Linked DNA regions of Homo sapiens. The protein of the gene in region 1 interacts with the protein of each later gene in a pairwise test. Each region holds a gene or a part of one and is shown on either strand. Other genes may lie near its edges. The genes, in order: RNF14 and PHF7.

The links.
Region 2: the proteins of RNF14 (region 1) and PHF7 interact in a two-hybrid assay, tested with the Homo sapiens proteins (one large-scale study listed by BioGRID and IntAct).

Annotation. Positions count from the first base shown.
Region 1 is NC_000005.10:141,971,909-141,975,729, reverse strand, and holds part of RNF14 (E3 ubiquitin-protein ligase RNF14), read right to left. Parts: intron 2,148-3,821; 5' UTR 2,142-2,147; coding exon 1,988-2,141; intron 927-1,987; coding exon 775-926; intron 1-774. UniProt on the Homo sapiens protein: E3 ubiquitin-protein ligase that plays a key role in the RNF14-RNF25 translation quality control pathway, a pathway that takes place when a ribosome has stalled during translation, and which promotes ubiquitination and degradation of translation factors on stalled ribosomes.
Region 2 is NC_000003.12:52,416,889-52,420,709, reverse strand, and holds part of PHF7 (E3 ubiquitin-protein ligase PHF7), read right to left. Parts: intron 878-3,821; coding exon 776-877; intron 400-775; coding exon 275-399; intron 1-274.

The DNA.
Region 1 (3,821 bases):
TGAGCTTTTGTCTTAATACACATTAGTCTATTGATCTTCATTATGACTTCTAGAAAAGCAGCTGCTGATTCATTATCTCTCCCAGAATGCTTTATATTATTTATATTTAGCTTCAAGCCATATTTATGTCTCAATCAAGAGTTGAGGTTGTTACTAGAAAAGTATATATAACCCAGAGGAAATGAGGTGCTTAACATAAGGCCTCAAGCCTTACTGAGATATCTACAGGAACTATACACATTTCTACTTGTATGCATTTATGTCTACGTGATACCAGTTGACTGTTATTTGTTATTAATACAGATTTTTACAAAGAAAATCAGTTATTGTATTCACTCAGAAAATTTGCTTATTATAACTACATTAGCTCAATTTTTAGTCCTAATTACAATGGAATCTTTCATTTAAGGAATGGATAAGAAACTAAGAGAAAAGTAGTATCAATGTCTAAGGAAAATGAGGAAGACCTCTTAGTCTCCATTATAATACAGATTAAACAGGAAAATAGCAAGACAAGAAAAGAAATAATATACTTGATTAAAAATTACTCCTACTACAATTCATGATTGTTTTAATTACTGCCATTCCTTTTTAAAACACCAAACATTTTCAATTTCTTAACATCAGGATTCACCAAGGCAAGGGAAAAAAATTACAAAACCAAAGCCATTTGTTTTTCATGCACTGAATTCAAGATCTTTAAGATAGTCTTCAATTAAAGGTGATTTTTAAGTTTCTAAAAATGGATAGGAAAAATTAAGTTTCAAGTCTAACCTGAGTTGGTGACAGCCATTTGCCACTAAGTGTGAATGAAGGTGGGGAAGAGGATGGATAATCTGGTGGCAGTTCAAAGTTCAGCACAAGTGGAGGCAGAAAGCAAATGGTGTATTCAAAGCCACTATTCTGGAGACACTCATTTGAATTGCCTGAACCAAAAACAAAGATTAGAAAGGATCAGTTGGTCAACACTTGAGTGTCCACTACTGTTGAGCAGCGCTCAAGAAAGACTTAATGCTTTAGTTGAGGGAATAAAAACCCTCCCCCAAAGCACTTTCTATTTCTTAATTTTAACTTCGTAGCCACCACCTTAAAAAAAAATCTTGTAAGCCCTTGAAAAATCTACAGCACCATGAAATGTATAATGAAAATACTACAACTTATTCTTGTATACACTTCTGAGTACAATTCCTAACACTAATGACCAAGGAACACACAATGTTTGTTTTGTTGTGGTTTGGTTTACAGTGGATGATTGAAGACACAATCTAGAGAAAGGATGTTCATTTCCATTGAACAGCATGACCTACTTAGACCAGCATGTCCCACTTAGACCAGCATGTCCCAACTACCCATGAATCAGTTGGGAAAATTTGTGCCAACACAATGATCTCAGGTTTGAGGATATAATATAGCACACAACACTCTCACAATCAAAGTTTCATTTAAATTACCACACTTACTTTCCTTACTCAATCCCTTTATAGTAGAAACATTTTGAGAAAGTGTGCATCAAAGTCTTCTGTAAATGTCTGTATCAAAAGCAGCAGTTTTGTTTTTTCTGAAGCAAAAGGTCACAGAGTAATAGCATGTGTCATATGTTTATAGTAGTTGAAATGATTCTGGAAACCAAATAGTATTAACCACCACCACTGTACTTGAAAATTTCTAAGCGTTTTCACATACATTCATTTTCTCTTTGATTACTGCTATGTAACAGCCAATGACTCATGGCTGATAAACTGCTAGTTAGCAGACCAGGATGTATGAAATATGCAGGATAATATCCCTCTTCAGTGATCAAAAAGGTAGAATCAAATTGAAAACTGCTTGCCCCTCATTGCAATTTTCATTTAAAACAGAAACATGCATTACCTCTGTAATACTACCACCTATCACTAATGCCTAAAACACAAAATGACAAATAGTTTAAGGTACACTAAGAAATAAAGAATAATAGAAAAATCTGTTTAAGAAATTATTAACTAACCGCTCACAAATATCTTGAAATTCTGTGGCAAATCCAAATAGATCCTGGTTTCTCCACCTTGGACAGACTCTGCTTTTCTAAATTCATCTCCATCGTAAATACTTGCCAGGGCCAGCAATTCATCCTCCTGAGCTTCTCGATCTTCTGACGACATAAGGACCTGAAAACATTAAAATCAGTTAAGAACAGAAAATGCACAGAGGCTGGCCGGGTGTGGTGGCTCACACCTGTAATCCCAACACTTTGGGAGGCCGAGGCGGGCGGATCACCTGAGGTCAGGAGTTCAAGACTAGCCTGGCCAACATGGTGAAACCCCATCTCTGCTAAAAATACAAAAATTAGCCAGGCGTGGTGGCAGGTGCCTGTAATCCCAGCTACTTGGGAGGCTGAGACAGGAGAATCGCTTGAACCGGGAGGTGGAGACTGCAGTGAGCCAACATCACGCCACTGCACTCCAGCCTGGGCGACAAGAGTGAAACTCCGTTTCAAAAAAAAAAAAAAGAAAAGAAAATGCACAGAGGTGGAAAAAGCTTAATGGCACAAAAAACAACTGCAAAGAATTAATCGATATTATCACTTTTCTCCTAAACCAAAAATGACAGCCATATCTGGCATTCCATTAGTTTTGCAATATTAACAGTCTTTTTCAAAAGGGATGGTTGTGGTACTTCTAATTCCTGATCTTATCAGTTAGATATTTTATGACTGAATTAGAGGAAAAAAAGCACAATTTGAAAATTTTCTTTGAAAAGGACAAATCACAAATTTACTTTGACTTGTCCACTGAACCTAGCAATGTGCCTGGTTCGCAAAAGTGGTCAAAGTATATTACACTCCTTTCTTAAGTTAATTTGCCAGGCGCGGTGGCTCGTGCCTGTAATCCCAACACTTTGGTAGGCCGAGGCGGGCAAATCACCTGCAGTCAGGAGTTCGAGACCAGCCTGGCCAACGTGGTGAAACCCCATCTCTACTAAAAATACAAAAATTAGCTGGGTGTGGTGGCTCACCCCTGTAATCCCAGCTACTCGGGAGGTTGAGGCAGGAGAACTGCTTGAACGTGGGAGGCAGAGGTTGCAGTGAGCTGAGATTGCACCATTGCACTCCAGCCTGGGCGACAGAGTCAGACTCTGTCTCAAAAAAACAAAAAAGTAAATTTTTTAAATCCACAGGAATCTTTAGGGCAAGTTTTCTTAGCTTCAGCTCTATTGACATTTTGAAGTAAATAATTGTTGTTGGAGAGCTGTGTTGTGCATTATAGAATCTTAACAGCATCCCCTGGCTTTTACCCACTAGATACCCAATAGTGGCCCGCTTCCACCCACAAGAGCTGTGACAACTGAAAATATCTAGCCAGGTGTGGTGGTGCTTGCCTGTGGTCCCAGCTACTTGGGGAGCTGACATGGGAGGATCACTTGAGCCTGGGAGGTCGAGGCTGCAGTGAGCCATGATAGCACCACTGCACTCCAGCCTGAGTGACAAAGTGGGACCCTGTCTCAAAAAAAAAAATATCTCCAAATAGCGCCAGGTCCTGGGGCAGGATGGGGGTTGGAGGCAAAATTGCTCCCAGGTGAGAAAACAGTGCTTGAGAATGTTACAGGCATAGATATTATGGAAGAAAATTAGATAACTGAGCAAGCAGCAAAATAATATTAAATTTTTGAAATAATAGATTTTGTCAAATCCAAGCAGTCACCAATTTAAAGATTCACCATTATGACTCAAGAATATTTAAAAGATAATAATTTTAAGAAAGATTTACCATTATTTTAGGTAATACTAAGAATTTAGCTACAAGGCCCAGGCACAGTGGCTCAAGTCTTTAATCCCAGCACTT
Region 2 (3,821 bases), on another chromosome or scaffold:
CTGTCTCCATAGCCTCTCGTTCCTGAAAGCCCCACTTAGTGCTGAGCAGCTGTCTAAGAACCCCAGCTGTTTGTAATTTAAGGAGGGGTCAGGAAGCAAGAAGAACCCCCTGTGAAATCTCCAAGTCAAGACACTGTTTCTTATTACTGAATGGAGGGACAGATTCACTGGTGAATCAAAACAGGCCTGCTTGTGAGAACTGGACTCTGATTTCATTAGTGGCTGAATAATAAGTTGCAAAAAGGAAGCCAGACTTTTCCCTTCCCTCACTCACTTGTACTCTCCAAAAAATTGTGAAAGGCAACCCCTTTCTTGGCCACAAGGCAGATGGAAGTTTCTGAGGCACTGATCCTTCTGGCAGTTGATAGCAGCTCCCTTTTTCTTGCACACAAAGCAGATCTGCAAATGAGTTCCCAGACAGTGCTCAGGACCCCAAGAAATGCAAACACACACAGTGTAGCACATCTTTCTATTAAATGGAAGTTTTGTGAAATAATAGCCATTCCCTATCTTCAGTGGTCCTGAATGCTCTGGGGCACCCGGAAGCTGAGCTTCAAGCAGCACTGAGTTCTTTCCTATTTTCTCAAGATGTTTCTCCCTCTTCTCACTTAGGACACCCATACCCCAGAGGAATATGGGACTTAAGGACTAGTTGGAAAATCCAAGAGTCCTTTGACATCTAAACTAGGAAGTAGGGAAGAGAACAGAAACAGGAATGATGGGTGAGGTATGAAAAGAGGCCTACCCCAAGGTCCTCATTTCAAGAGATTCTAACCTTCCTAGAAGCCCGGGCTGCCTCCTTTTTGATGTCTTCAGGCAGAAATCCATGGAAGCCTCTGTTGGACTGGCCCCTCTGAGGCAGCTTACTAGATAAGATCTGCGGGGGCAGTAGAACCAGGCTGTTAACAATGATGATCAGTGAAACAGTGCAGTGAGGTGAGGAGAAGGACAGGGTAAGAGAGCTAAAGAATAGAGCTTGGGCCGGGTGTGGTGGCTCATGCCTGTAATCCCGGCACTTTGGGAGGCCGAGGCGGGCGGATCACGAGGTCAGGAGATGGAGACCATCCTGGCTAACACGGTGAAACCCCATCTCTACTAAAAATACAAAAAAATTAGCCGGGTGTGGTGGCACGCACCTGTAGTCCCAGCTACTCAGGAGGCTGAGGCAGGAGAATGGCGTGAACCCGAGAGGGTGGAGCTTGCAGTGAGCCGAGATCGTGCCACTGCACTCCAGCCTGGGCCACAGAACAAGACTCTGTCTCAAAAAAGAAAAAAAAAAAGAACAGAGCTTGGTGGAATATATATGCATTGACAGGGTAATTTATTTAATGAAGGCTTACATGGCACCAACCATGTGTTGAATACTCTAAGTGGTTTCAAATATTAACTCATTGAGTCCTCCCAACAGCCCTAGGAGGTAGGTACTATTATTGTCCTCATTTTATAGGAGAGATGATGCGACCTGCTCAAGGCCACAGAACTCTGGAACCTGGACTCTTACTTTTGCTCTAGGCTGCCTCTCACTTACTGAGGGCTGCTATTGTGTGCTGGGACTTTGGGGGAAACATTTCCTTTGTATTTACTCATTTTATGCTTACAATCCTTGGCCAGGCACGGTGGCTCACACCTGTAATCCTAGCACTTTGGGAAGCCGAGGAGGGCTGACCATCTGAGGTCAGGAGTTCGAGACCAGCCTGGCCAACATGGTGAAACCCTGTCTCTACTAAAAATACAAAAACTAGGGCATGGTGGTGCGCGCCTGTAATCCCAGCTACTCGGGAGGCTGAGGCAGGAGAATCGCTTGAACCCGGGAGGCGGAGGTTGAAGTGAGCCAAGATCAGGCCACTGCACTCTAGCCTGGGCGACAGAGCAAGACTCCGTCTCAAAAAAAAAAAAAAAAATTCCTGTAATGGCAGATGCTATTATGATGCTCATCTTACAGAGGAGGCCGCTGAGGTGCAGTGTGGCAAGTGACACTGCCTCCCAGGGTTATAGGACAAGGAGGAGCAGAGCTGGCTATTCACACCCAGGCCCATGGAATCCCCATTCTTACCCTTCCTGCTGCATCACCTCTTAGTACAGAGAAAATACTCTTCTCAGAGTAATACAGGAAGAAAAACAGGGTTTTAATATCTCTTGATTGTTGTTGTTCTGTATTATGGGGGAAGGAATTGAACTTTTGAAACACATATTTTAAAACTAATTATCTCAGGGCTTTGGGATGAGTGATTTGTTTTCTTCATATTTTTAAGTATCATTCATGTTTTCTGCAATAAGCATGTATTGATTTAATAAATTAGCTACTAAAAAGAAAAAACTATATCTATATGTTCTATACAGAAAGATTTCCAAAATATATATGATGGAAAAAAGCCAAGATACAAAGCACTCTGTATAATGTTTAATTTTTATGTAAAAAATGTATATGCTTGTAAATACATCAAAATTATAACTAAGCCCTGACACCTGATAGGACTTACAAGAAAGGAAAATCACAGACCAATCTTTCTCATGAGCACAGATATAAAAATCAAAACAGATGCAAACTGAATCCAGCACCATATAAAAAGGACAATACATCATGACCAAGTAGAGTTTATACCAAGAATGCAAGACTAGTTTAACATTAGAGCATTTAGTTGATGTAACAAACTACATTAACAAAATTAAAGAGAAAAATCAAGATAATCTCAATAAATACAGGAAAAGTGAGAAAATTCAACACCCATTCATGATACTCTGGGCAAACTATATATGAATAAAAGGGATCTTCAACCTGATAAAAACATCTATGAAAAAAACCTAGAGCTAACATACTTTAATAGTGAAAAACTAGATGCTGTCCCCTGATGTTGGGAACAAGACAAGGATAACAACTCACACCACTTCTATTCAATGTTAGGTTAAAGGTCCTAGCCAATACAACAAGGCAAGAAGAAATAAAAGGCAAAGATTGAGAGAAAGAAGTAGAACTGTCTTTATTCACACATGACATGGTTATGTGCATAGGGAATCCTGTAACAAGGCATTTACAACAAAATAAAAAAACAACTAATCAAACTCAATTTAACAAGATTACAGGATACAAATCAATATACAAAAATAAAATGCATTTCTATATACCAGCAATAAACTTAAAAATGAAATAAAAATACTATTTACAATAGCATAACCACAGAATATTTAGGAATACATTTAACAAAAGATGTACAAGACTTTGTCACCAAAACAACAAAACATTGCTGAGATATATTTTAAAAGACCCAAATAAGTGGAAAAATATACCATGTCCATGGATTGGAAGGTTCAATATTTTTTGTCAATTCTTCCCAAATTGACCTATAAATTCAATGCAATCCCAATCACAATCCCAGTAGACTTTTTTTTTAAAGAAAAATTGACAAGCTTAATATAAACTTTATAAAGAAAGGACCTGATAGTCAAAACAATCTTGGAAAAGATTGTAGAACTTAACAATACTGAATTTCAATATACTATAAAGCCACAATAATCAAGACAGTGGGGACTTGTGTAAGAATAGATACATAGATCAATGACATAAATAGATTATCCAGATCCACAGATATATGGTCAATTGATTTTGACAAAGGCACCAAGGCAATTCTATGGGTAGGTAAAGATTTCTTGCAACACACAAAAAGCACTGACCATAAAAGAAAAAAATGGATAAACTGGGCTCCATTACAATTACAAACTTGTTCTTTGAAAGACACCATTAAGAAAATGAAAAGGCAAGCCAAAGACTAGGAAGAAAATAGTCTCAATACATATATTTGAAAAAGAATTTGTATCTGAAATAT